Linked DNA regions of Homo sapiens: region 2 is linked to region 1. The links come from fine-mapping of genetic effects on gene expression. A gene starts in region 1. The other region holds a variant in brackets. All regions are shown on one strand. Distances are from middle to middle.

Evidence for each region. PIP is the estimated chance that this variant, and not a neighbour inherited with it, causes the effect.
Region 2: its variant is the best candidate, but not a certain one, in a credible set for the expression of NDFIP1 in whole blood (INTERVAL, PIP 0.63).

Annotation. Positions count from the first base shown.
Region 1 is chr5:142,099,881-142,115,455 of GRCh38, forward strand. It overlaps NDFIP1 (Nedd4 family interacting protein 1), which reads left to right and starts at 8,899. Exons shown (of 8, transcript NM_030571.4): 1 at 8,899-9,157. The coding sequence starts at 9,095. LOC105378204 (a long non-coding RNA gene) reads right to left here and starts at 3,307. Exons shown (of 3, transcript XR_944368.3): 1 at 3,159-3,307. RefSeq lists silencers at 1,311-1,511, 8,729-8,998, 9,059-9,188, 9,259-9,328 and an enhancer at 8,650-9,151.
Region 2 is chr5:142,013,830-142,029,075 of GRCh38, forward strand. No RefSeq gene overlaps it. Among named protein-coding and RNA genes, the nearest start is that of GNPDA1, 8.4 kb to the left of the region's middle. RefSeq lists a cis regulatory region at 465-737, an enhancer at 4,290-4,349 and a silencer at 4,500-4,559. The variant T/C (reference allele first, on the strand shown) is at 7,320.

The DNA of each region.
Region 1 (15,575 bases):
CGCCCAGGCTGGAGTGCAGTGGCATGATCTCAGCTCGCTGCAACCTCTGCCTCCCGGGTTCAAGCAATTCTTCTGTCTCAGCCTCCCGAGTAGCTGGGACTACACATGTGTGCCACCACTCCCGGCTAATTTTTGTATTTTTAGTAGAGAAGAGGTTTCACCATTTTGGCCAGGCTGGTCTCGAACTCTTGACCTCATGATCTGCCCGCCTCAGACTCCCAAGGAAATAGAAGTCTTACACCATACTATAAGCCAGCTAAAGCTAATAGATACCTATAGAACTGTTGGGGCTCAGAAAATAATACACCAAAATATGGCGTATTATTTGAATACTGAGCACTTTGAATTAAAGGAAATTGAAAGCCTTAGAAGTGACCTCAGAATCAGTGTCTCTCTGACCTTCTCTTGTTTCTCCCCACAAGGGTGGGGACAGGCTCTCTCTGAAGGTCCCTTATCTCATTGAGGGAAGTTCTTTCAAAATAAACACAATTGTCTTTAATCCACTGTTTAAAATCTCATTGCCAGCTGGGGCACAGTGGCTCATGCCTGTAATCCCAGCATTTTGGAAGGCTGAGGTGGGCGGATCACTTGAGGTCAGGAGTTCAAGACCAGCCTGGCCAACAGGGCAAAACGCCATCTCTACTAATAATACAAAAATTCACCAGGCATGGTGTTGGGCGTCTATAATCCCAGCTACTCGGGAGCCTAAGGCATGAGAATGGCTTGAACTCGGGAGGCGGAAGTTGCAGTGAGCCGAGATCATCCCACTGTACTCCAGCATGGGTGACAGACTGAAACTGCATCTCAAAAAAATAAAAATAAAAATAAATAAATAAATAAATCTCATTGCCTAGGGAAGATAAATCAGGAAGAAGAAACAAAAGGTTGTCACTACACCCACCCAAGCAAACTTATCATATTGCCTGAGAGACCTTATTTGCATACTAAGACAATATTTGCATTGCAGTTCTGTCCCCTCACCTTCCCATAACTTGTCACCACCTTCCCCAGAGCTCAGAGGACCTTTGTCCCAGGCTATTGTCTTTTCTTTGGGCCCATTCATCTCCCCTAAAAATTACTTATTCTTTGTATTAGTCCATTTTCACATGGCTGTAAAGAACTGCCCATGACTGGGTAATTTGTAAAAGAAAGAGGCTTAATTGACACACAATTCAGCATGGTTGGGAAGTCCTCAGGAAACTTACAATCATGGCAGAAGGCAAAGGGGAAGCAAGGCAATGCTTCCCCACAAGGCAGCAGGAAGGAGAAGTGCTGAGCAAAGGGGGAAGAGCCCCTTATAAAACCATCAGATCTCACGAGATCTCACTCACCATCATGAGAACAGCCTGGAGGAAACTGCCCCCAAGAATCAATTACCTCCACTTGGTCTCTCCCTTGACACATGGGGATTAGAATTCAAGATGAGATTTGGGTGGGGACGCAAAGCCTAACCATATGAAGAGTGATAACTCTTCCTCTAAAATTGCCTTCATCTCCCCTGTGAAGAGGGTATTTAAACTCCATCTGTCAGGTCCTTCTTTGAGTTTCATACTTGGTGTGACTCCCATTGGCTTGCAAGTTAATAGCCTCTTCTCCTGTTAATCTTTTGTCCATTTATTTCAACAGACTCAGTTATTGAACCCTCAGAGGGAAAGTTTAAACTTCCCTAACAAACACTCCACCCAACAACAGCAGAATATATATTCTTCTCTAGCGTGCATGGAACATTCTCCAGGGTAGATTTGATAATCTAGGCCATAAAACAAACGTCAATAAATTTAAAAGGATTGAAATGATGCAAAGTATGTTCTCCAAATACAATGGGATAAAATTAGAAATAAATAACAGAAATTTGGGGGATTTGCAGATATATGGAAATCAAACCACAGTCTTAAATAACCAATGGGTGAAAGAAGAAATCACAAGAGAAATTAGAAAATACTTTGAGGCCGGGCATGGTGGCTCATGCCTGTAATCCCAGCACTTTGGGAGGGGGAGGTGGGTGGATAACTTGAGGTCAGGAGTTCAAGACCAATTAGCTGGGCGTGGTGGTGCACACCTGTAATCCCAGATACTCAGGAGGCTGAGGGGGGAGAATCACTTGAACCCGGGAGGCAGAGGTTACTGTGAGCCATTACTGCACCACTGCACTCCAGCCTGGGTGACAGAGCGAGACTCCCTCTCAAAAAAAAAAAAGAAAGAAAAAAGAAAAAAAAGAAAATATTTTGAGATGAAATTAGTTAAAGACACAACATACATGGCTGGGCACAGTGGCTCATGCCTGTAATCCCAGTACTTTGGGAGGCCAAGGCGTTTGAGGCCAGGAGTTTGATACCAGCCTGACCAACATGATGAAACCCTGTCTCTACTAAAAATACAAAAACTAGCCAGGCGTGACGGCACATGCCTGTAATCCCAGCTATTCGGGAGGCTGAGACAGGAAAATCACTTGAACCCAGGAGGCGGAGGTTGCAGTGAGCCAAGATGGTGCCACTGCACTCCAGCAGCCTGGGTGACAGAGTGAGACTCTGCCTCACACAAAAAAAGAAAGACACAACATACTGAAGCTTACGCATATGTAGCTAGAATACATAAATAACCACTTTCAGCATTTCTTAATTTCATTTTGTAGAATAAATGAGAGACCATTTTTTAAATAGTTTCAGGTTCTAGGCATAAAGTCACAGTGTTTATCTATAGTGGTGCTAAATTAATATTTGCTGAATAAATGAATCTGTGGAATTCCAGTGTCAGGAAGGTAAACCAAGGAATCAGGAGTCCCATGTTGGATTCTTATTTGACGAACCCCTTTCCTCTGACTCACCTTTTCTTTTCTTTTTTTTTTGAGACGGAGTCTTGCTCTATCCCCCAGGCTAGAGTGCAGTGGCGTGATCTGGGCTCGCTGCAAACTCTGCCTCCCAGGTTCAAGCAATTCTCCTGCCTCAGCCTCCCAAGTAGCTGGGATTGCAGGCTTGGGCCACCACACCCAGTTAATTTTTGTATTTTTAGTAGAGACAGGGTTTCGTCATGTTGGCCAGGCTGGTCTGGAACTCCTGGCCTCAGGTGATCCATCCGCCTTGGCCTCCCAAAGTGTTGGGATTACAGGTGTGAGCCAAAGCATCTGGCCTCTGACTCACTGTTTCATAAAAGCCACTTACCTGTTTATATTTTAGGATCTTTCATAAATTCTTATCTTCCTCTCTCTTTCCTTTCCTTTTCCAGTAGGTGTTCTGCATTAGTCTCTGGCTTAAACTCTCTATTTAATCTCATAGCAAATAACTTCTTTTGTCTTGCTACTAAACTAGGGGTTGGCAAACTACTGCTCAGGAGCCAAGTCCAGCCTACTGCCTGTCTTTGTTTGACCTGAGAGTTGAGAAGAGTTTTTACTTTTGTTTTTTTTTTTAATTCTATTGTGTAGAGCTGGTGTGCAGTGACGTGATCACAGCTCACTGCAGCCTCAAACTCCTATGTTCAAGTGATCCTACTGCCTCAACCTCCTGAGTAGCTGGGACCACAAGCGTTTGCTACCATGTTTGGCTAATGGCTTATTTATTTATTTATTTATTTTTGGAAAGATAGAGTTTTGCTATATTTCCCAGGCTGGTCTCAATCTCCTGGCCTCAAGTGATCCTCTGGCCTCGGCTTCACAAAGTACTGGGATTACGGGCATAAGCCACTGTGCCTGGCCAGTTTTTACTTTTTTTTTTTTTTTTTTTTATTTAAACAGAGTCTCACTCTGTCGGGCAGGCTGAAGTGCAGTGGCATGATCTCAGCTCACTACAACCTCTGCCTCCCGGGTTCAAGCGATTCTCCTGCCTCAGCCTCTGAGTAGCTGGGACTATAGGCTTGTGCCACCACACCCAGCTAATTTTTGTATTTTTAGTAAAGACGGGGTTTCACCATGTTGGCCAGGATGGTCTCGATCTCTTGACCTTGTGATCTGCCCACCTCCGCCTCCCAAAGTGCTGGGATTACAGGCGTGAGCCACCGTGCCCAGCCCAGTTTTTACATTTTTAACTAATTGGAAAAAAAAATCAAAAGAAGAATACTATTTCATGACACATAAAAATCATATGTTGAGGCTGGGCACGGTGGCTCACGCCTGTAATCCCAGCTCCTTGGGAGGCTGAGGCGGGTGGATTGCTTTAGGTCAGGAGTTTGAGACCAGCCTGGCCAACATAGCGAAACCCTGTCTCTACTAAAAATACAAAAATTAGCTGGGCGTGGTGGCAGGTGCCTGTAATCCCAGCTACTCGGGAGGCTAAGGCAGGAGAATCTCTTGAACCCAGGAGGCGAAGTTTGTGGTAAGCCAAGAACATGCCACTGCACTCCATCCAGCCTGGGCGATAGAGTGAGACTCCATCTCAAAAATAAAAAAAATAAAAAAATAAATCATACGTAATTCACATTTCAATGATCATAAATAAGACTTTATTGGAACACAGTCTTGCCACTTTGGCATTGTTTATGGCTGTGTTCACAATACAATGGCAAAGTGGAGTAGCTGCAACAGAGCTTATGGTTCACAAAGCCTAAAATATTTCTATCTATTCCTTAACATTAAAAGTTTGCTAAGTTCTAAGATTTTGTTCTAAACTAAGTTCTAAGCTTTTGTACAATTATACTCATGAGTTTGTGAAAGTTGTAAGAATCAAAATGGAGTCACTTATTCTATACCCCGACAAATAGGAGTCGGGAGGCCATAAAGGAGGGGCTCTCATGCACACATGTCTACGTTAAAATCTATTTTTAGGTTACACTTTCTGAAAACCACAACCTTGAACAAGGCCACCACAACTTTACACAAAGACGTCTGCCTAGGAACTGTCTGTTCAGCCTTGGAGTGATACCACCCTTGTTATTGATCCTTGTAGCCAAGGTTAATAGTTTCAAAACAACTTATGTAACCTTGCTCATTTTGCCTTTAAAACCTTTGCCTTCCTTTCCCTCTCTGGGTACATCCATGGCCCTTCATGAGGTGCATACATATCCCAGATTGCAATCTTGAGGATTCACAAATAAACTCACTGTCTTTGGAGAATCTCTCTGTTGTTATTTCAGGTTGACAACTTTCTCTCTTCCCATGACAGCAAAGCCCTTTTATTTCTTTCTGTTTTTTTTTTTTAGATGAAGTTTCACTCTTGTTGCCCAGGCTGGAGTGCAATGGCGCGATCTCGGCTCACTGCAACCTCCGCCTCTCAGGTTCAAGTGATTCTCCTGCCTTAGCCTCCCAAGTAGCTGGGATTACAGGCATGTACCACCACGCCCGGCTAAGTTTTTTGTATTTTTAGTAGAGATGGGGTTTCTCCATGATGGTCAGGCTGGTCTCCAACTCCCAACCTCAGGTGATCCTCCCGCCTCGGCCTCCCAAAGTGCTGGGATTACAGGCGTGAGCCACCACACCTGGCCAACAAAGCCCTTTTCTCGTTCAAAACCCTTTCTTCCCAATCCTTACCTGATTATCCCAGCTGGCCACATAATTCTCTTCACTATCTCTCAGCATTAGTTAATATAGCTCAACACAGTTGTAAATAACTTGTAAGTTTTATATTTTAAAAATGTCTCAAATAAGTGTTTACTATCATCTCTATTTCATCATGAAGACTCCAAAGGTTAGAACTTTCTATCTCCTGTCTATTTATGTCCCGTATTTCTCTCCACACCCAAAGCAGTGCATACATTTTGGAGCCAGACAAATCCCAGTTTGCGTTTCGACTCCACCGCTCACAAAGCTGAGTAGGTTATGTAAATTTCCTGAGTCTCTTCAAGAATCTGCAGAATGGGTTTGTTATGAAGATTAAGCAGATGATGTACCATCAGGTCCAAGATTCTGGAAGTGCTCCATAACAGTAGTAATTATCAGTGGATAATTTCTTTATTTGTAATATGAAGATATTACCTTTTGCTCTTAATGAACCTTGTGGTAATGTAGTGAGAATTAAAAGAAGTAGTAAGTCATAGAAATAAAACTTCATGGTTTAATTGGAGCCCTGTGAAGACTAGCTGGAGAAGTTCAAGGCCTCAAATGAGATATTAGACTAATGAGGCTTTTGTCTAAATTTAACACATTTAACAAACCCTTCTTGGTTACTTACTGAGCTCTGCACTACCTAGGTCAAGCCTCATGTGGATATGAAAGACAGAAGGTCACATTTATCCTAGAGATTTGTATCTATATTGCAGGGGGAAAGGGATACGGACATGAGTTATGCTTATACTTGTCCATGTTTCTTTTCTCTCTCAGGAGGGATGATTCAGAGTCAGCAATTCACATATGCAGTACTGCACATGGAAAGTATTACTGTTATTCTGTGGGGAAATAAGTTTCTAAGTGCAGCAATCTGAAATTAATAACTTTCTCTGTGGAAACTCTCTTGACAACATCTCGAGATGAAGCCAAAGAGCACAATTTTTATGGCTTTGGATTATCTTCTCTGTCTGCTTGGCTTGCACCAGGCATGGATCTGTGAGCCAGAAATTCAGTTTTCCCCTTCGTTGTACAATTTGCCTGCCAGCTGGAGGCCTAATATAGCAGTGACTCAATTTCTCAATTCTCCAATTTATCCACCCATCAAATCAAGGCAAATAATCTCAATTTACTTATTAGAGGCTTTGGGGAACTCAAGAAAAAAAAGACCAAAATCTTTACCGTGACTACAAAACATTTTGGTTGAGGACATAGGAAAAGGAGATTAGAAGTTGGAGATCAATTTTCTTTTACTTTCAATGCAAAATATTTCTATGATAAAGCCTGTTATTTATATTATGATAAATATTTGTGTCCACATGCAGGGAGTATATAGATATTGAGGGAGAAAGTAATTTAGGAAAGAAATAGAAGGGTAGCAACATCTTTTCCACAAAAGCCACAGCACTGCAGACATGCATAAAGATTGCAGTTGTTGCTCCAATAGCCTTATGTGGTAGGCCGACAAATTCTTTTTTCTTTTTCTTTTTTTTTTTCAGAGATTGTGTCTCACTATGTTGCCCAGGTTGGTCTCGAACTCCTGGCTCCTGGGCTCACGTGATCCTCGAGTCTCAGGCTCTCAAAGTGCTGAGATTACAGATGTGAGCCACTGTGCCCAGTGGACATTCTTTTTTATTCTTTCTTACACGTAAATGTAGACAATCTGGACAAAGAAGTCTGGATTTCTACTTTCCACTGCTGACATTTTAAAAAATTTCAAATTAGATTTTTGCACCCTTTATACAAGACTACATGGCAGGACATTATGTTTGATTCACTGTACCTGATTACATTTAAATGTTGTTTTTCTGGATTATAAACAACAACTGAGGGACAGAGTAAGGAGGCTCTAAATAGACTTGAGAGCTTGGAATGTTGCTACATTTGTTCGCTCTCCCAGCATGTTAATATGTGAGACTAATACTTGGAAATAGCGACAGATATAGAGGAGTTTGGATGCTGAGAGAGAACTCAAAGTGAAGATGGTAAACATCTAGAGTTTTTATTGATTACAATTTTCTCATATATACAGAAACCTCAGGGTGTGTTCTAAACACAGTTCTCTTTTAAAATACATAATTAACTAAACTTCAAAATTAGAAGCTAAGACAATAATCATATTAATATAACCTCTACACTGCCAACTTGGAAAGGCAATGAAGAAGAAATGGGAATTGCAACAAGCTTCAGAGATGGAAGATTTTGTTTTTCTCTGTAGGACATGTGGGTAGAAGCAATTGCAGATGGCTGGGTGTGAAAGAAACAGACCTTGCAAGCCTGCTATATAGCTATACTGTGCTACATGGCATTGGGAGGTAATAAGATTTAAAAGACAAATACTCTTGTCTTCACAAAGCTTATAATTTAGTTGTGCAATACTGGGTAAGAAAGCTGGCTTAATGGAGTTGTATTCCAGCTTCACCCCTTAGTAGCTCTGTGTCATTGGGTGAGATATTTAATTTCTTTGGGCATAACTTCCTCATCTGTGAAACACTGATAATTGTATCTCCTATATGGCAGCTATGCCAGCCTCCTTTCTGTTCTTCCACAAGACAATCTCTCTCTGGACCGCCCTTTGCACCTGTTCCTGTGGTCGGGAAAGCCTTTAGCATGGCCAAACCCTTCAAGTTTTGACTTCATGTCACCGAGTCAGGGAGCTTTTTTGGAAAATATTGTTTCCGATTCCGCAGATGAGGCTGTTAAAATACTAAAGGATGGCATAAACATGAGGATGCTATTATAATCATCCACCCTAAGTAGGATTTGAGATCCAAGCAGTTCTCAAGGATTTAGGGTTAGCAAACTTTTTCTGTAAAATGTCAGATAGCAAGTATTATAGGGTTTGCAGGCCATACCAAACAAATGGGTGCTGCTGTGTTCCAATAAAACTTTATTTATGGACACTGAAACTTGAATTTCATGTACTTTTCACAGTCATGGTGGCAGACCGGATTTGGCCCCCTCCCTGTCGCTGGCTGACCCCTGGTTTATGAGTACGGCAGATAAAAGAAGGGAGTGAATAAGAACCACGATTCTGCTGCCAGACACGAGGGATCAGGTCGCTGCTGTGAAGATTGTCAACCTCTCTGGTTGCCAACGACCTCGAGAATGGGGTTGTGGTCCCTGCGTCAGGGCGGTTGTGCTGAAGGCTGGATGAGGGCACGTAGGTGAAGCTCAGTGCTTGGCACGAGGTGCTCATCAGCAGCATCGCCCTTGCTTTGGGCTGGCCTGTTAGTAATTCGTTTTTAGTGGAATCGAATACAACACTTGAGCCTCGGAGGCTCAGGTCGTCGGAGCAACTACACCAGGGCCGGTGCACCTCGGGGCGGCGGCGCAGGACTAGGCTAGGCCGGGCCGGGCCGGGCAGGGCGGCGCGAGTCGGGGGTGGGGCGGCGGCGCAGCGCCGTCGTCGTAGTCCCCGCCTCTTCCCCAGGGGCCGCGTCGGAGCCTCGGCGGCGGCGGCGGTGCTTACAGCCTGAGAAGAGCGTCTCGCCCGGGAGCGGCGGCGGCCATCGAGACCCACCCAAGGCGCGTCCCCCTCGGCCTCCCAGCGCTCCCAAGCCGCAGCGGCCGCGCCCCTTCAGCTAGCTCGCTCGCTCGCTCTGCTTCCCTGCTGCCGGCTGCGCCATGGCGTTGGCGTTGGCGGCGCTGGCGGCGGTCGAGCCGGCCTGCGGCAGCCGGTACCAGCAGGTAAGCGGCGCCCGACTCCAGCCCCGAACTCCGGTCCCTGGCTCTGCCCTGCCCGCTGGCCGCCTCAGGCCTCTCTGGCCGGCCCGCGGCCAACTCGACGCCGGGGCTTGGCAGGCCGCGCTGGGCCTGGAGGGGCGGGTCGGGCCCCGGGCTCGGATTCGAGGCTGCCACGGGCCCGGCCTGCCCGTCTGCGACCCCAGGTGGGACTCCGGCGGTGGAAAGTCCTCCTCCCGGCCTCGTTTCCCGCATTTCCCAGGGCGGGCGGGTCCCTGAGTCAGAACCCGCGACCCACAGGCGGCATCGATCTGAGGCATTCGTTTTTCATTTTTCCACCTTTGGTTTGATGTCATTGGAAAAGAAAGAAAGAAAAAAGCATGAAACGGAAACTGGGTGGAGAGAAAAGATTAAAATCTCTGCTGCTGCCGATAGCTCCCCACAGCAAGATGCTATTGCTCAGGGTTTCAGAGCCTAGTTTGTCGAAACCCATCCCCCTCGCCTCCGTTTTAAGACAAAAGTAAAAAATGAAGCAAGAGACAAGCCCGCAGTTTGCAGTAGATTTGGAAGAGGCGATGTTTGGCTGTGGTGATGCCCCAAAAGGGAGAGCTACGATGAAGTCTGCAGGGCGTGTGCCGGGTGTATTTTAAATGCTTGGAAGTGACGTTTTAAGAGATTTGATGGCATAGCTGGGGAGGAAATGTATAGGAAATGATTGGATCATTTTCTCGGGTTTGATTTAATACATTGAGGCCCCAGGGAAAAGAGCTGCTTGTTTCACTCCGCGTCTGTAGCTAAGTTCCCCCAGGAAATTTAGAGACCTTCTGCAGGGTTTTTGGAAGTGTTAATCTAACATACAGTAATGGTGGGAATTGAGCCAGGTGGTAAACTGATGTTGATTGGAACCGCAAATAACGGCTTGTGTTTGTCATGTTTCAGATGCTTTCGGTGCATACAGATGTCAATCCTCCTTTTATCAAATAAAATGTCCTATCTTAGACGATCTACAATTTTATATTTTAGAAGTAAGGAAAGCCAGCCAGTACGATGAAAACGTAGATTAACCCTGGTGCGGCCGGCCGGTTACTGGTTTGTTTTGCTATCATCAGCCATGTGTTGCAATCCGTCCCCACTCAGGCTTGGACTCCCAAAATGACTAGTTAAGAATTTCACTTCTTGGTTTTATAAACACGGCCCAAATTGTGGCAATGCAGTTAATCCTTAGATCTCTTCAGAGCACATGGATCTAGCACATGCTTTTTTTCTATGACCTTGGGCAGCCTGCGGGTTCCTTACTGCTTTAATAAAATGGGAATAACAGATGCCACTTAACTGTCACCACAGTGTTTGCAAATCACCCCTACTGTATACTGTCATCTGATTTCATCCTTTTCATCCTGACTTGGATAAGGCTAACGAGCAAAAGAGCTGTGGTTTTTCTTTGTACTGCCATCTTCTTGAGCTATTAGGTAATGCTGACATACTGCTAGAATATAAAAAATTTGCTGGAGTATCAAAATCATGTATTCCTTAGTGTGGCATTTAATATTTTTTAATTATGCAGAATTGAAGTATAAAAAAAAGAGAAAAAAATCTTCCTAGAAAAATTGTAAAAGATGAAAGCCCAAAAAACTGCAAAACCCTCCCTAAACAAAAACCAAATAGATAACCAAAGGTAATATTTTAATGTGCATTCTTGTGGGTTTATAGCTATGTAAATATACATAGTTATAGATCAGTATATGTGTGTACAGATAAGGAATGCAGGAAAGCTAATATTGATTTTTTTATGCAACAATCACAGTATTAAGTAATTTACATCCATTTTTTTTTTCTTTTAATTCATACCAAACCCTTATGAACCAGGGTTTGTTCTCATTGTCAAAGACTCAAAGTGGCTCAGTAACTTGCCTCAAGGTCACAGGCTGCTAAGTAGTGATTATAAGGATATACACACACTCACCTACTTAAAACACAGGCTCACAGTCCAGATATAGGTGTATGCATTAGCAGATATATACACATGCATATGTATTCTCTTATGTACCCATATATACGTATACAGACATATCTTTGTACATTTGTGTGCAGTTTTATGAGCCCCGATCATACTTGCACATACTTTTGCACGTGTCCATGTGTATCTTGTTCTCAGACATGTGCATTCATACATTTGCACATGTGTATCATGCACATGTATCTACAAAGGCATGCTAGATAAATAATGAAATAGGTTCATAATTCTATTTTGTAATGTTCTTCACACAATGTTATTAATGTCTTCTATATAAAATATTTTTAATGTCTGCATGGCATGTAATTGTATGGCTGAATCATAATTTAACTAATTGCTTATCTTTGGTCACTAAGAATGTTTACAGTTTTTTTCATTGAAATTTATTTCACATACGTCTTCAACCGTTTCCTTAGCATAAATTACTAGCCATGGAAATGCCTGGTCAGCGAATATGCATTTTTAAAAGGCTTTTGAATTATAGAATGATGGTGAATTGTCCAGGCAACTTGATAGGAGCATGATACTCTTTGGTTGTCACACAGGGCTGTTCTGACTTCTATTTGATCTGGTTAATCAAATTGAGCTAGTTTTCTCACCAAGTAAATGTAATGGAAAACTGTATGATTCATTCATAAATGCAAACACAGTTTTGTCTTTATGGTCTTTTTATTGGTAGTGTAATATGTGGACAACTTGAATTTAGCATAGTGACAGACTATGCAGAAAGGGTAGGCTCAACCAGGTGTGGTGGCTCACACCTGTAATCACAGCACTTTGGGAGGCCGAGGTGGGCGGATCACTTGAGGTCAGGAGTTCGAGACCAGCCTGGCCAACATGGCAAAACCTTGCCTCTACTAAAAATACAAAAATTAGCCAGGTGTGGTGGCACTCACCTGTAATCCCAGCTACTTGGGAGGCTGAGGCAGGAGAATTGCTTGAACCTGGGAGGCAGAAGTTGCAGTGAGCCAAGATTGTGCCACTGAACCCCAGCCTGGGTGACAGAGTGGGACTGTCTCAAAAAAAACCAAAACAAAACAAAACAAAAAATGGCCAGGCAAGGTGGCTCATGCCTGTAATCCCAGCACTTTGGGAGGCCAAGGCAGGCAGATCACAAAGATCACGAGGTCAAGAGATTGAGACCATCCTGGCCAACATGTGAAACCCCATCTCTATTAAAAATACAAAAATTAGCTGGGCGTGGTGGCGTGCACCTGTAGTCCCAGCTACTCAGGAGGCTGAGGCAGGAGAATCGCTTGAACCTGGGAGGCAGATGTTTCAGTGAACTGAGATCGTGCCACTGCACTCCTGCCTGGCGACAGAGCAAGACTCTGTTTAAAAAAAAAAGCACGGTGTGGTGGTGCACATCTGTAACTCCAGCTACTTGGGAGGCTGAGGCAGGAAAATCACTTGAACCCAGGAGGCAGAGTTTGCAGTAGGCTGGGATCGCGCCACTGTACTCCAGGTTGGGTGAGCAAGACTGTCTTAAAAAAAAAAAAAAAAAAAGGCACCGAGGTGGGCGGATCACAAGGTCAGGAGATCGAGACCATCCTGGCTAACATGGTGAAACCCCATCTCTACTAAAAATACAAAAAATTAGTTGGGCGTGGTGGCACGTGCCTGTAGTAGTCCCAGCTACTCGGGAGGCTGAGGCAGGAGAAACCCGGGAGGTGAAGATTGCAGTGAGCCGAGATCGCGCCACTGCACTCCAGGCTGGGCGACGAAGTGAGACTCTGTCCAAAAAAAAAAAAAAGAGGCTAGGCTTATAGGTTCCCCTGGCATTATTTTATTTTTTTTTTCATTTTTGCCTTTTGAAACTGAGACTGTCTCAGACAGTATGGAAGCACTATTTTAGAAAGACCTAAGTAGGCCCATACTGAGTGCTGAGAAACCTGTTGCGTGTTTCTCTCTCTGAGGACGTTAACTCCCGTTCATCCATAGATGAACGCAGATCTTCTGCGGTAGATGTGTGCATGAATTTTGCCAATTCATTTCAAGTATTTTGGGATACTTGGATTTGAATTCAATGTAAGTGGGTGATGATGACACTGCCATGTAGGTTCAAACAGATTACAGAATGTTTAGTTCTGGACTTGCCTCATTACCTGCTAAAGAAGTTGCCCACTTGTGAGCATCACCAATACTCTGTATGATAGTTTGATGACATTATAGTGCAGATTTTGGAATGGTATACTTTTGGATAAATTCTCTCAGGATTATGGAGGAATATTTTGATGAGCATAAGAATTTCATCTCTGATAGGTCAAACCATATTCATGTTAAATTATTAGATGAAGTAATGATCCTGGAGGAAGGAATGAATAGTGCTTATGTGGCTTTTTTGCTTATTTTTCAGTTTCAAAAGAAGTTATATCACAGAATGCCAACATAACCTAAATGTCAAAGTTTCTTAAGTTATATGCTGTATTTGTGGCCTACATGGTCAGTGATCAAAGAAAATTTATAAAAATATTAGGAAGATGGGTAAATTATTCCTTTGAAAACTTTAATTGTGGTAAAATACACATAAAATTTACCATGTTAACCACTTTTAAGTATACAGTTTAGTGGCATTAAGTACATTCACATTGTTGTGGAACCAGTCCATCTCCAGAACTTTGTCACCTTGCAGAACTGAAACTCCATATCCATTAAACAATAACTCTCCATTCCCCCTCCTCCAGCCCCTGGAAGCCACCATTCTACTTTCTATGTATTTGACTACCGTAGGTACCTCTCATAAGTGGAATTAGACAGGATTTGTCCTTTTGTGACTGGCATATGTCACTTAGCATAATGTCTTCAGAGTTCATCCATGTTGTAGCATGTGTCAGAATTTCCTGCCTCTTTAAGGCTGAATAATAGTCCATTTTATATATGTACCACATTTTGTTTATGCATTCATTTGTTGACGGATGCTTGGTTTGCTTCTACCTTTTGGTCATTGTGAGTAATGCTGCTATAAAAAACATGAGTCTACAAATATCTTTCAAGTCCCTGCTTTCAGTTCTTTTGGATATACCCAGAAATGGAATTGCTGGGTCATACGGCAATTCTATTTTTAAGTTTTCGAGAAACTCCCATACTGTTTTCCATGGCAGCTTCACCATTTTATTTTCCCACCAACAATGCATAAGGATTCCAATTTCTCCATATCCTCAACATACTTGTTATGTTCTCTTTTTTGTTTTTGTTTTTTTGATAGTAGCCATCTAATGGGTGTGAAGTGGTATCTCATTGCAGTATTGATCCCTATTTCCCTAATAATTAGCGATGTTGAGCATCTTTTCATGTGCTTATTGGCCATTGATATTTTCTTTAGAGAAAATGTGTATTCATGTTCTTTGTTCATTTTTGAATTGAGTTTTTTGTTGTCGAGTTGTAGGAGTAATTTCTTCATGATGTTTACATTTTCAACTTTTTACTATGGAAATTTCAAACACATACAATAATAAAGTAGTGTAAGAAATTTTATGTACCATCACCCAGCTTCAGCAATTGTGAATGAATGGCCAATATTATTTCACTTATACTCACCACATTATTTTGAAACGAATCCTAGAAATCATATATTGATAAATATTTCTATGTGTAACGCTAAAAGAAAACAAATGGTATGATATTTCAAGAAGATATCACATGAGGAATATATCATGAGAGCTCTCTTGTAATCTGTGAGGAGTATGGAAACAGGATTTGTCAGTGTCGGGCTGTGGATCCATAACTAACTGTCCTTTGTATTGATTGGGCTCACTCTTGCCAAGCCTCATGCTTTGTTTTTGTAGCAGTGATAGATTCCTGTTAATCTATCCTTGTTTTCTTACCTGATCCCATGGGTGACCACTTGTTAGGCAAGATTTATTTGGCTTAATCATACTATCTGTGTCCTGAAAATAGGGCAGTGCTTCCTGGTTTGGGCAGAAACCAAGGCCCAGTTGAACTGCTCTAGGGAATTTTGCTCTAAGCTGATGCCACCAGTAGTTTAACTGCACATAACTTCAAATTGTTTTATCCTAGACATTAATTATATTTCATAATTTTATGGTAGATTATAAAGTAAATCCTACCATGAGAATAACTTCATATTTTTATTAAGAAAGAAAAAAAGTCTCCAAGAGATTCAAGTGACATCCTCAGATTTATTTGTTTTTAGGGCTTTAAAATAATTATTTTGGTTTCTTAAAATGTTCTTGTTTTACCTTTAAGCAAGTACAACAGCTTAGAAGAATTATATTCTTTTTTGTTTGTTTGTTTTGAGATGGAGTGTCTTTCTTCTTGCTCAGGCTGGAAGGCAATGGCGCGATCTCGGCTCACTGCAACCTCCGCCTCCCAGGTTCAAGCGATTCTCCTGCCTCAGCCTCCTGAGTAGCTGGGATTACAGGTGCCCACCACCACGCCCAGCTAATTTTT
Region 2 (15,246 bases), 86 kb before region 1:
CAAGTGGTTTCCCTTGTGCCTTCAATTCAGGGGGATCTGTCCAAATCCAAAATCCATGCTTTTTACCGCTAGCGGGCACTGCCTCCCAGCTGGTATGACTGGATTTGGGACGCTTCCATATCAGAAAAAGAGATCCATCTTATTCTTTCCAGTCAACATTAGAGTGTTCCAGACTTCTAGGGACACTTGGGAACTTTCCATGCGGAGGCTGGAGGAAGGACTTGAGTGCTGGTCATCAGTAACATCTTCCATTACATAGGGTTTTGCCAGAGCTTTGTGCGCATTATTTCATAGAATCCCGCCCAATCGTCAGATATGATTACCGCCATTTTATTGATGTGGAAACTGGGGATCAAAGGCGTACAGAGACTTGTGATATATGACCTCATAGTCTGACATCCCGGACTTTAGTCAGTGCTAGGGAGCAGTGGTGAGACCTTCTGAATCAGCCTAGTTTTCCTCCAGCAGCAAAAGGCCAAAGGAATCCTGGCTTTATGCCCACGGGACAGGGCCTTCCTCAGTCAGCCGGGTGGCCACGTTCTGCAATTCTGCTGAATCTGCTCACTGTGGACAGCCCCAGGCGCTCACCCAGCCCTTGGGCCCAACTGCAGCTCCAGACCAGCTTGCTAGGGGTAGGCTTCATCTGGTGAGGCCCTGATGAGACCAGATGGTGGAGCTGATACCTTTACAGTGTGGGGGACTTGCTCTTTGCCTCAGTGTTATTTTGTTTTGTTTTGTTTTGTTTTCCAAATCCTGAGAGGCTGTGAATGGCTCGGTGTTGGTGTAGTTTTTGTTTATTTTTAAATTCAGTCAGAAATCTTTTTTTTTTTTTTTTTGAGATGGAGTCTCGCTCTGTTGCCCAGGCTGGAGTACAGTGGTGTGATCTCTGCTCACTGCAACCTCCGCCTCCCGGGTTCAAGCAGTTCTCCTGCCTCAGCCTCCCGGGTAGCTGGGATTACAGATGCCCACCACCATGCCCAGCTAATTTTTGTACTTTTAATAGAGATGGGGTTTCACCATGCTGGCCAGGCTAGTCGTGAACTCCTGACCTCAGGTGATCTGCCCGCCTTGGCCTCCTAAAGTGCTGGGATTACAGGCATGAGCCACCGCCCCCAGCCAGAAATGTTGTCTCAGCTTGAGGACTGCAGATGTTTCACAATGAAGCTCCAACTCCAATCTCCGATCACGTCTGATAACATGGGCCAGGTCTGCAGCATCTGCATCCAGACCTTTCCAGGAGGAGAGTGACTGACTTCTGGTGACTAAGCCCATTTCCCCTGAGTTACCCCTTCTGCAGGGAACCAGTGCAGGGTCTCTGCGAAGCCTGGAGGCTCTTGGATCAGCGTGGGGACTAATCGGAAAGACCTGCATTTCAATTCTGGTCTGGCTAATTTCTGGTTATTTAGTGAGTAATTCAAGCAAATGACTCAACTTCTCCAGGTCTCAGTTTTCTTACCTGAAACATAAGAATTGAGTGGAAATTAAGTAATACTGCCCTCGTGTGGCTGTTGTGACTATTAAATGAAATATTAGCATAGCATGGCATTCACAGCCAGCTGTTATTACTTACCCCTTATTTCCTCCTAACCCTCCTTACAGCCCACTCTCTAACCATACTGAAATGCTCTCTAGCCCTAACCTCCTGACTCCCTGTACTCCTCCTACTCCACATCTGTGTTTAAACTATTACCCACACCTATCCTCCCATCCTCTTGTCTTGGAACTAAAGTTGCCAAATTAAAAGAATTGTGAGTTTATCCATGCAATGGAACACTCTGCAACTCTTGTATGGTCAGATATTTTTATACCTTCTAATGCACCCTTGCTTTGGGCAAACAACCTGACCAGATGTTACCTCCCAAATTCTGCTCAATTCATAGAGTTTGTGTGGTGCTGGCCCTACCCTTTGACTTAGGAGCAAACCAATTAGAGACTCCATGGCTCTGGCCATGATTAGTTCAAGGCCAGGCAGGCATGGAAGACACTAACCCAGCAGCCATTCAGAGACTCCTTCTCCCTTGCTGCTTCCCACTGGAGAAACTGGAAAGTCAACGACTCTCACAGCTTCTCCCACAGCTACGGGGTGGCCAAGTAACTTCATTCTGCCCAATGAGGGAGGAGGATGGCTTCTGGTTAGATATTTTACTTCCTGAGAAAAGTGCTGTGCTTGAGAAACAAACTGGCGGTTTCTGGTTCCTTCCCTTTCCTTCCTGCCTTGAAGGCAGTTGTGATGACTGAAGCTGGGGAGGCCACGTTGTAACTGTGAGGCACCAAGCATAAGGATAGAGTGGAGGAGGGAAAACACTTATGTCCTTGATATCTGACTAGTGCTGGGACCTCCTACTTCTGGACTTCTTCTAAGTAAATGGTAAATGTCCTTATGGCTTAAACTTTAAATCATTGTTAGGAGAATTTCCTGTGACTTGAAATTGAAAACATGACTCACTGCTAGAGCAGGTGATTCAGATCTTCCTTAGGGTTTATGCCACTACTGGGGGAAAATACACTTCTCCTGAGATCTTGAGCCGTAAAACAGAGGAAAGCTTAGAGCTACAGAAAGGTACAACAAATAGAAGAGAGACACAGAACTCTGATGACATCATTTGAGCCCCCTAGAATAGCATGTCTGAAGCCAAATATACCCTTTTGGGTTTCGTGGTTGAGTGAGTGAATGAGTGAATACATAATTAAATATCATTTTCCCCTGAAGCTAGTTAGAGGAAATTCTGGAAGGATATTTTATTAGTTATCTATTGCTGTGTAACAGATTACCCCAAAACTTAGTGGCTTAAAACAACAATAATGACTTATTTCTCACAGTTTCTGTGGGCTAGAAATTCAGACAGGATACAGTGGCGATGATATCTTGCCCCTCAACTGAAAGACTCAAATTCTGGGGCTGGAATCGTATGAAAGCTCATTGACTCACATGTCTTGACAACAGGTGCTCACTGTCAGTGGAACACTCACACATGGCTCTCCTTGTTGCCTGGGCTTCCTCACAACATAGCGGTGGGTTCCAAGGGCAAGCGTATCAAGAGACAAAGATGGGCTAAGGCTGTATCCTTCTTCTGACCTAGTCTCAGAAGTCATATAGCATCACTTCTGCTGAGCTCTGTGGGTTGGAGAAATCACAAGCCCCTATCCAGATTTAAAAAGAGAAAACATAGACCCCCATCTCTCTGTGTAAGAAGTTCAGTAATATTATAAGAAGAGCATGTTGGACGGGATACATGTACAAGTATGGCCATGTTTAAAAAATACAATCTGCCACAGACACACACTAACTTGTTATTAAGATGTGATCTGGCCAGGAGTGGTGGGTCACACCTGTAATCCCAACACTTTGGGAGGCAGAGGCGGGCAGATCACTTGAACCCAGGAGTTTAAGACCAGCCTGGCCAACATGGTAAAACCCTGTCTCCACTAAAAATACAAAAATTACCCGGGTGTGGTGGCACGTGCCTGTAATCCTAGCTACTCAGGAGGCTGACGCGTGAGAATCGCTTGAACCTGGGAGGTGAAGGTTGCAGTAAGCTGAGATCGCACCACTGCACTGCAGCCTGGGTGACAGAGCAAGACTCTGTCTCAAACAAAACCCCCTGCCCCATTTGGCAAAAAAAAAAAAAAAAAAAAAAAAAATTTAATAAAAAGATTTGATCAAAGTAATTGACCATCTACTCTGTGCTGGTCACTGTGCTAAAAGTTTTTAAAGCATCGTCTCATTGACTCATCATATTTTTTCAAAGTGGGTGCTGCGGGTTGGATACATTCTGCCTAATATTTGTATGAAATGAATGATTTTGTCTTGAAGGAAAAACAACAACAAAACCTTGAAAACTTAATGAATCTTATGCTTCCATCCAAGCCAAGTAAATTGCCACCTGCCCTGCAGTCTTCTTTTTCATTCATTTATAAAATATTTATTGAGCCTTTACCATGTGCCCAGCACTATTTTAGGTTCTGGGGACACAACAATGAACAAAGCAAAGTCCATACCCTTGTGGACCTCCAGGCTCTAGGAATTACATTTTTATGAATTTTAGTAACTCGGTGTGACAGCCAGCCTCCAAGACGGCTCCTAGTGATTCACACGCTTATGTAGTCCCATTCCACAGTGGATGGGGTGACCTGTGTAACCCAACAGGATAGTGCAGAAATGATGGGTGTGTCTTCTAGGGTTAGGTCATAAAAGCCATTGCAGCTTCTTCTTTGTTTTCTCTCTGGGATCACCTTCTCAGTGATGTCAGCTGCTCCATTTCCACACTGGAGCAGCCTTATGGAAAAGCCCAGGTGGCGAGGAAACAAGACAACAGCCATGGGAGCCATCTTGGAAGCAGATCCTCCAGTCCCAGTCAAGACTGCAAATGACTGCAACCCTGGCCAGTAGCCTCACTGAAATCTCATGAGAGACCCTTAACCACAACCACAACCACAACCACTCAACTAAGTCATTCTTGATTTCTTGACCCACAGAAGCTGTGAGATAATAAACACTTGTGGTTTTAAGCTGCTAAATTGAGAATGATTTGTTATGCAGCAATATATCTAATACGCTCAGAAAAAAAATCCACAAATGGGGAGGGTGGCAAACAAGAGATTCAACCTTTGTAGCCAGTCCCTTGTGTCTGGAGGTGCAATGTCTGACCCATCAGAGACTCCCCACTCCCCACCCCTATACTCCAACATCCTGCCCCCTTCCACATGTTTGTGGAATCCCCTGCCAAGGCTTTTGCTGAGCCTTTCTTTCTGCTACTTGCTGTTTTCCACCTTTTCATTTTCTGAGGCCCTGTCTTACCTCCTATAATGATAGCCATATGTCACTACTCCCTGCATTTCCCATACTCCCTGTAGCTCAGTGGTACCTTGCACATAAAAGCCAAAGCCCCAAGTGGCTCAGAACACTGGCTCTGAAGCCCATTGGATTCAGATTCTGGATCAATCACTAATTAGCTGGGACACTTTTCTTAACCTTCCTGTAGTTCAGCTCCCTCAATTGTAAAATGGGGATAATCATAATGGCCACTCATAGGATAGTTGTGAGGATGAAATGAATTGACACGTGTAGAGCATTTGGAACTGCTCTACACAGTCTGTCACCCAGGCTGGAGTGCAGTGGCACTATCTCAGCTCACTACAACCTCCACCTCCCAGGTTCAAGCGATTCTCCTGCCTCAGCCTCCCAAGTAGCTGGGACTACAGGCACATGCCACCACACCCAGCTAATTTTTGTATTTTTAGTAGAGACGGGGTTTTGCCATGTTGGCCAGGCTGGTCTTGAACTCCTGACCTCAAGGGATCTGCCTGCCTCAGCCTCCCAAAGTGCTGGGATTACAGGCATGAGCCACTGCGCCCAGCCAACCACTAATTCTTTTTTTTTTGAGACGGAGTCTCGCTCTGTCGCCCAGGCTGGAGTGCAGTGGCGCAATCTTGGCTCACTGCAAGCTCTGCCTCCCGGGTTCACGCCATTCTCCTGCCTCAGCCTCCCGAGTAGCTGGGACTACAGGTGCCCGCCACCAGGCCTGGCTAATTTTTTGTATTTTTAGTAGAGATGGGGTTTCACCGTGTTAGCCAGGATGGTCTCGATCTCCTGACCTCGTGATCCGCCCGCCTCAGCCTCCCAAAGTGCTGGGATACTAATTCTTAATTCTAACTAAAAAATCTCTTTGCCCCAACAGCACACCCACATGACCAGCCAAAGTGGGGTTCTACCTTGCTTTCCTTTCAATTTAGCTCTGTTCTTCTCTTCCTTGTAGTAAACTTCTGTCAGTCCTTTTGGCTTCTCAGTTGTTTCTCCCTTCTTCTCTCTCATCTCAAAAGCCCAGATGTGAAACCACCAAAAACTGGCTTCTTAGAGGGCAGAAGAGAGGGGAGAAGCCTAGAAGGCAAAGGAATAATTTCTTTTTTCTTTTTCTTTCTTTCTTTCTTTTTTTTTTTTTTTTTTTTTGAGACAGAGTCTTGCTCTGTTGCCAGGCTGGAGTGCAGTGGCGTGATCTTGGCTCATTGCAGCCTCCGCCTCCCAGGTTCAAGCGATTCTCCTGCCTCAGCCTCCCAAGTAGCTGGGACTACAGGTGTGCGCCACCATGCCCAGCTAATTTTTGTATTTTTAGTAGAGATTGCGTTTCACCATGTTGGCCAATATGGTCTCGATCTCTTGACCTCATGATCTGCCTGCCTCGGCCTTCCAAAGTGCTGGGATTACAGGCATGAGCCACCATGCCTGGCCTTTCTTTTTCTTTTTAATTTGGTAAAACACACACACACACACACACACACACACACACACACACCATTAAGCTTACCATCTTAACCATTTCTAAGTCTATAGTTTGGTAGTATTAAATATATTCACATTGTTGTGTGACCAATCTCCAGAACTTTTTCATTTTGAAAAACTGAAACTTTGTAGCCATTAAACAATTTTTTGACTTAACATAATGTCCTCAAGATTCATCCATGTTGTAGCATGTGACAAGATTTCCTTCTTTTTCAAGGCTGAATAATATTCCATTGTATGCATATACCACATTTTCCCCTACTATCTGCCATCCATTTACTTAATTGATTTCAGTACACATGTATAGCAGTACCAGGATTGTAACCCTCACTCCCGTGTGAAACAACTTTATCAAATAGAGCACAGTGCTTATGTACAGCTTCTTTTGCCTTTCATCTGACAGGTTCCACTAATTTCCAAAGTTACTTGTCAGCATCTTTCCCCCTCTATAACTTTCAGTGAGGTTGTTTAATACATTTTAATGCAGTTATATTGTTTTGTCACATTCTACATTCTGTCCTGGGATCCTTCTCCTAAATGATTTTTTAAAAATTGGTATACTCTTTGTGCTATAAAATTCTATGGGTTTTGAGACATGCATAGTGTCAAAAATCCCCGAAAATATAGGGGATTTTTTTAGGACAGTGAAACTATTCTATATGACACTATGATTTAGGACCTATTTAACTCTCTGAACCCCTTGGCAATCATTAAACTTTTTATTCATTTATTTATTTATTTTTGAGACAGGGTCTTGCTCTCTTGCCCAGGCTGGACTGCAGTGGTGTGATCACAGCTCACTGCAGCCTCCACTGCCCAGGCTTAAACAATCCTCCCACCTCAGACTCCTGAGTAACTGGGACTACAGGCATAAGCCAACATACCTAGCTAATTTTTAAATTTTTTTGTAGAGATGGGGTCTCACTATGTTGCTCAGGTTAGTCTCAAACTCCTGGGCTCAAGCAATCCTGCTGCCCTGGGCTCTCAAAATGCTGGGCTTACAGTCACACACCACCATGCCCAGCTTTTTTTTTTTTTTTTT[T/C]CTGTGGAGATGGAGTTCTGCCATGTTGCCCAGGCTGGTCTTGAACTCCTGAGTTCAACTGATCCACCGGCCTCAGCCTCCCAAAGTGCTGGGATTATAGGCATGAGCCACCGCAACTGGCCTCACTGAGCTTTTTATCATCACGGTAGTTATGCCTCTTCCTACCACATTTTGATTATCCATTCATCTGTTGATGGATGTTTGAGTTGATTCCACCTCTTGTCTATGGCAGATTCCTTTTAAAGGGAGAAATGAGAACAAATTTAGTAATTTTAGACTCCATCACAAGAAAAAAACTATATAATAAATTGTGTGGCTCCAACATTAAATGAGAAAGCGGGTCATAGCTTGAAGAGTCTCACAGGGCAGAGCAGGGTACATGCAAGTCAGGGTTCAGAAATGGACTCCATGGCCACACTATCTGGCTTCGAATCCCAGCTCTACCACTTTTGGGCTGTGTAACTTCTGTGTAAGTTATGACATGTCTTTGTTCCCTAATGGCTTCACCCATAAAATAGGAAAAATAAGATCTACCTTACAGTATGTACTATTATTATCAAGAGCAGTTGCCTCACGAAGGGTAAATGATGTAATGCGTCTAAGGCAAATAATAGCTGCCACATTGTATGTAGTATTATTCTCAAGAATAATAATCTTGCCTGTAATCCCAGCACTTTGGGAGGCCGAGGCAGGCAGATCATGAGGGCAGGAGATTGAGACCATCCTAGCTAACATGGTGAAACCCCGTCTCTACTAAAAATACAAAAAATTAGCCAGGCGTGGTGATGGGCGCCTGTGGTCCCAGCTACTCGGGAGGCTGAGGCAGAATGGTGTGAACCCAGGAAATACAGCTTGCAGTGAGCCGAGATTGCGCCACTGCACTCCAGACTGGGCGACAGAGCGAGACTCCATCTCAAAAAAAAAAAAAAAAAAAAAAAAAAAAAGAAGAATCTCAGGGAGGAGCAAATGATTTGACAAATATAAAGCCCTTAGAACAGTGCCCGGCACAGAGTTAGCCCTCACTAAGGGACCATTACCATTATTACTAGGGTTTTGAGATGGGCTCAAAAGAGCCAGGATTTGATCATTTAAGAGGAGGAGGAAGGCATTATAGGCAGGCACAAACAAAGGCACAGTGGCACGGAGGCTGAGGGAGTAGATTTAACAAATAAAAGTACAGAACATCAGTGAAATCTGAATTATTTATAATTGCCTGTGCATATGTACACTGAGATAGAAAAATATTGCATGCACTGACTTATACTTTTAGTAAATTACTTTTAGTAACATATTCATTGCTTATCTGAAATAAATTGTAAATATCTAAATTACATACCTCTTTAATTATATTTCCCTGGAGATTTTGTGCTCCCTAATAGTTCTTCATTTTGCAGAATTTATGTATAAAATTCCTTACTATTAGTCTGTGTTCCATTTACATTTTATCATGACTTCTGCAGTGGTTGCATCCAATTTATTTTGTTCTTTTGGCCACTGAACATTCATTAATGAGAAATCATGCTTGACATTAGCTTTACAAGCCAGTGTATTGAACATACATAGGCATAAAGTTACCAACTCTGAGAATTACTCTTCAAATTTGATTGGCTGAAGCACATGTGTCATCTTTCATGCATAACTTGCTTTTCCGTTCTTCAGGATCACATTGCATCTTTTGATCAATGACTCTTTAAAATGTTGTCCACTGACAAGAAGGAGCACTGTCATCAGTTTTTATTCCTTCTTTTCATTACACTACATGTAGATTACAATAGAACTTTTGATGGATGTATGCAAACAGGTACAATGTTTATCCAAAGTTGAAGCAAAGCCTGAATGATCCTATGAAAGATATTGGCTGTCCTGCCCATGTTCTCATAATGCTGCTTAAATAGCACTGGATGTTTTCTATTGAGACTGAAGTAATTATCATGAAATTTTTCACGTAATGTAATCATTTAGGTTTTGCTTCAACTTTGAATAATCATTGTACCTGTATGCATAACATATAATGTAGTGTAATGAAAAGAAGGAATAAAAACTCATGTAATAAATTAAAAAACACATGTAATATAATGTAGTATAGATTTTATTCTTTCTTTTTCATCACACCACACATGGTGATTCCACTTGTACCCACACTGGAAAAGTATTTAGTAACATCCATGTAAAAAACTGAATTTTTCAAGGGATGAAATCCATCTTGAAAGATGGTCATAACAAGTGTTGTAATAATTGTCCACTCTGAGCTAAAATGTATTTTCCTGTTCATATGTAATGTCCCTTTTAACAATAGTTTTGATAATTCAAGGGATGCATTTTTCATCAATTCTCCTTCAACACATTCAACAAATACATTTAGCAATGGAGTAGTACTTCCATAACACTATTTGCTCTTTCAATTTGCAGAATCCTATAGCAGAATTGACACTGAAAACTATGAATGAGAAATAACTAGGCACCATTCAATGGATTATTTTAAAAGTCAAGAATTTTGGGGGCCTTTTCTTCATAATTAAAGTATAATTTCAGTGCTTGAAATAAATGGAAGATTCTCTCAACTATGTTTGTTAAAGAGATCCAATGGATTTTTGAATGCAAGAGAAATGAATAATTCCGAATGCCAAAATCATAAAAATCCTTAAAATGTTCAGTTAGAACCCTATAAATACTAAAGTAAGAGAACAATTTCATGATAATTACTTCAGTTTCAATAGAAGAGATCCATCCAATGCTATTTACGCAGCATTATGAGAACACGAGCAGGACTGCCAATACCTTCCATAGGATCATTGAGGCTTTGCTTCAACTCAAATAAATAGTGTACTTGTAAGCATACATCCAACAAAAGTTCTATTTGTATTATTTCCAACGAAAGCAGTAAAAACGTTTTCATTAACTGCCAACTCAAGAGGCTCTGCAAATATTTGCTATTGTTTCTGAAGTCTCACCTGGAAGGGATTCTACCTGCAATTGCCTTGTTGCAAGTGTTTTTATGAGAAAACTAGTGCGCGCAGGAAAAGTTGTACCTGTATTGTGATACTTGTATTGTGGCTATGCCACAAAAAGATGAGGCATTTAGATATTTGATAATCTCTGTAATAATAAATGAAGCTATTATATTTTTTATTAGGGCAGTCGATTTTATCCTAGCATTTGAAATTTTGCTTGCAATTTTGGAACCAGAAAATACTTTGTCAGTAGTATGTTCAAATAGTTATTTGAGCAGAAAGACTGATAATGATATAGTGTGGAAGGCCATTACAACTTCTATTACAACTATTTTTGTCTTAATCTGAGTTTCTCTTAATCAAAAAACTTTGTTGGTGTATCACTTTTCTTAGTACTGGTTGAGAAAATCTTACATCTCTTTTATGTTTAGCCATTCATATATGCTAGTTTCCATCTAACTTTCTATCATTTTTATACTAAATGAACAATTACTGCACAAAGAGCTTCAAAAGGACTTTTCCTTGTTTAATAAATGTCCACTGGTCAGAAATTTCATCACAAAATTTACACTTGCTTTTTGACAATCAGTGGTTCAAATATACGCAAATAAAAAACAGATCATATAAACTACTGCAAAAATGGAAGACTGACTTTGCTAAGCTCAGCCGCTTCAGTACATCTGTCACTCGTAAGTCCAAACTCATAACAAACCATAAACAAGGTCCAACTGTTAAAAGAGTTGCGTTACATTGAACCTGACATCTGATGCCAAAAGAAAAAAAAAGTGAACTTCCGGTTTGCTTGCAAGAGAGAACCGTACCTCTATGGGAAAGTCTCCCAACCCCCAGGGCTGATTTAGTGTAAGGTTTAGGGAAGCGGGTCATGCAGGGTCTGGTGGCGCTTCTGAAGCCTAAGTATTTAGGAATCTAAGGCCTTTCAGCTGTGTTAGCAAATCACAGGCGGAGGCTGCCTTTCGCCTCCGACTTCCGGGAGCGCCGGCGCTAGAGCGAGACACTTGCTCATTGGCTGCTGTCGAGCAGCGGAGGGGACCGAGGGGCCGGCCCTGATGCGCTGCCTTTCGGGCTGTAGTGGATCCGCTTACTTTTAGGAGTGCAGTTACTGCAGCGATGCTGTCGCCGACTGGCTGATTTTCAGAACGTGTGTATGATTAGAAGTTATCTCTAATTAACGGTGGCTCCTGTTCATGACTTTGGGCTTCTGCAAAGAACAGTGTTTTCCTTTCCCGAATAAAAAAATAAGTACCCTTAATTCTCAGTCTTCCCTTCTGTTCTTCCCTCAGCCGAACCTGCATGAAACCAAGAAGGTATTGTCCAAATCTTTATGGAGATACGCTTTTCAGCTAGTGTTGCCATTTAGGTGATTTAATTTAGGTGCCAGTTACTGTCGAGGAAAAGTAGCTCTGATGATTTTTGAATGTATTGAAAAAAGCTGAACACAGGACATTCAAGGAGTCTTGACAAAGTCAAGTAGACAAAATACAGGATGTGCCCCACATACACAGCCAACTCTATGGGGAAAGTGAGACGGGAAGGGAGGGAAAGCCCCATATCCGACAGAAAGAAATCTAAGTCCTTTGTCTTTCTGGAAGGGCATCCATGGCATCCCGGCTTGTTAAAGAAAAATATTAGAACAACCTAAATATCCGTCAATCAGGGACTGATTGAATAGTTTTGCACACTTGTAAAATGGAATACAATGCAGCTACTAAAAAGGAGCCAGTTCCATGAGCTGATAGGAAGACTACCACAATAGTTAAATAAATTTTTAAAAGCAAGATACAGAACTCCGTATAACATGTGTGCTAAAACATGCATGAGGGTAAGGAGGTAAGAATAAATATATGTTCCTGCGCGCATAGACAATTTCTAGAAGGATGCTAAAGAAACAGGTCGCAGAGATCTCTTTGGGGGAAGGGAACTAAAAGGCAGCAAGCGGAGGGAGTCTTCCTTTTTATGGCATATCCTTTGATACTGTTTTCATTTCTTTATTCTCTGTGATGCATTATGTCTATATATACACATATATAATAACAATATATATCATATCATATATATGATATATTGTATATAATATATATCATATATAATATATGATATATGATATATAATATATAATATATACATATTATATATAGTCTATATGTATATATATACATATATGTATATACATATACATGTATATGTATATACACATATACATATATATGTATATATACACATATACATATATATGTATATATACATATACACATATATATACATATATGTGTGTATATATATACATATATATGTGTGTGTATATATATATACATATATATATATATATACAGAGTCTCTCTCTATCGCCCAGGCTGGAGTGCAGTGGCGCGATCTCGGCTCACTGCAAGTTCCGCCTCCCGGGTTCACGCCATTCTCCTGCTTCAGCCTCCCGAGTAGCTGGAACTACAGGCGCCCGCCACCGCGCCCGGCTAATTTTTTTTTGTATTTTTAGTAGAGACGGGGTTTCACGGTGTTAGCCAGGATGGTCTCGATCTCCTGACCTTGTGATCCGCCCGTCTCGGCCTCCCAAAGTGCTGGGATTACAGGCGTGAGCCAACGCGCCAGGCGCATTATGTATATTAAACAATTTTAATTATATATTTTATATATATATATAGAGAGAGAGAGAGAGAGACATTTATTGCAAGGAATTGGCTGATACTGTTGTGGGAGTTGGCGAGGGAGTTCTGAAATCCATATGTCAGGCTGTGAGGAAGGCATGCAGGAACTCTTGGGCATGAACTGAAACTGTTGTCCAATTTCTTCTTCTGGAAACCCTCAACTCCTCTCTTCTAAGGCCTTTCAACTGATTGAATCGGGCCCACCCAGATTATTTTGGACAATCTCTTATTTCTCCTTCCTTCCTTCCTTCTTTCTTCTTTTTCCTTTCTTCTTTCTTCTCTTTTTTTGAGACAGAGTCTCACTCTGTCGCCCAGGCTGGGGTGCAGTGTTGTGATCTTGGCTCGCTGCAACCTCCGCCTCCTGGGTTCAAGCAGTCCTCCCACCTCAGCCTCCCAAGTAGCTGGGACCACAGGCATGTGCCACCACGCCCGGCTAATTTTTTGTATTTTTTCTAGAGACAGAGTTTCACCATGTTACCCAGGCTGGTGTCGAACTCCTGGACTCCAGCGATCCACCTGCCTTGGCCTCCCAAAGTGCTGGGATTACAGGTGTGAGCCACTACGCTTGGCCTCTATTTCCTGAAGTTAACTGACTATGGACTTTAATCATATCTACAAAATAACCTTCACAGCAACAACTAAATTGCTATTTGATTGACTGAGGACTGTATCCTAGACAAGTTAACATATAAAACTGACCCTCAACCTATATTAGTCATTCTTCACTGCATGACAAATTACTCTAAAATGTAGTGCCTTAAAACAACAACATTATCTTAAAGTTGCTGGAGGTCAGGAATCTAGGTGCAGCTTAGCTGGGTCTTTTTTTGTTTCCTTAAATTTTTTTTTTTTTTTTTTTTTTTTGTGGAGACAGGATCTTGCTTCGTTGCCCAGGCTGATCTCCTGGTTTCAAGCAATCTTCCTGCCTCAGTCTCTCAGTCTTCTGGCCTCAGCCTCCCGAAGTACTGGGATTACAGGATTGAGCTGCCACACCTGGCCCCTATCTAGGTCTTTTTTTTTTTTTTTTTTTTTTTTGAGATGGAGTTTTGCTCTTGTTGCCCAGGCTAGAGTGCAGTGGCACTCTCTCGGCTCACTGCAACCTCCACCTCCTGGGTTCAAGCGATTCTCCTGCCTCAGCCTCCCAAGTAGCTGGGATTACAGGCACGCACCACCACACCTGGCTAATTTTGTCTCCTGGTTTCTACTTTATTTGTTATCCCTAGTGTAAGAAAAAAGCAACCTTGATGTTATTGCACACTTTATAGGCTAGGACACACACAGCCTTCTTGACTGTTCTGGAGGGCTGCTTTTAACTGTCTTGCCAGAGCATATTTACTATTTCCCCATAGTATATAATCCTTGGGTGTGGGGAGTAACACATCTACCTGTCTTGTGGCCATGCAAGACCACACTTCTAAGTTACCTTAACAAATAATCCTCTACCAACAAGCTGGATTTGTCAGCCTCCTTTGATTTCTTGGCTCTGGCATTTGGGGGTCGCTCTGCATATCCAGCCCCTTTGCGGAACACTGGCTCACTCACATGCTTATTGGTAGGATTCAGTTGCTCATGAGCTGTCAGCTGGAGGCTTCCCTTGGTCCTTGCCACGTAGGCCTCTCCGCAGAACATCTCACAACATGGCAGCTTATTTTGTCAGAGTGAGCAAGAGACTTTTAATTATTTTGAAAACAATGAATTTTTAAAAATCGAATGTATGGGCTGGGCATGAACAGGAGGCATGGATAGATTTGCAGGTGTGGACAGGATGTTTCTGAGCCTGGTGACCCTTCTGCAGGTGGGTGGACCTCCGCGCCTGGCTGATCAGCTGTGTGGGACACTTCCCACGTCTCCAAGTCTCTTCCATATCACGGAGCACAAGAAACAGCCTGGGTGGAAATGGGGGAAGTCCTAATCCCAGAGGGGAACAGCTTCATCCCACATAGCGAATGACTGAGAAGAAGAGCTCATGATAAATGTGCTTAACTGCACAAGCAGCCAAAGGGCACAGGAACCATCTGATTATTCTGTATAGAATTCATTTCCTAGGCCGGGCACTGTGGCTCACGCCTGTAATCCCAGCACTTTGGGAAGCCGAGGTGGGAGGACTATGAGGTCAGGAGATCGAGACCATCCTGGCCAACATGGTGAAACCCCGTTTCAACTAAAAATACAAAAATTAGCCAGGCGTGGTGGTGTGCACCTGTAGTCCCAGCTACTTGGGAGGCTGAGGCAGGAGAATCGCTTGAACCTGGGAGGCGGAGGTTGCAGTGAGCCGAGATCGCACCACTGCACTCC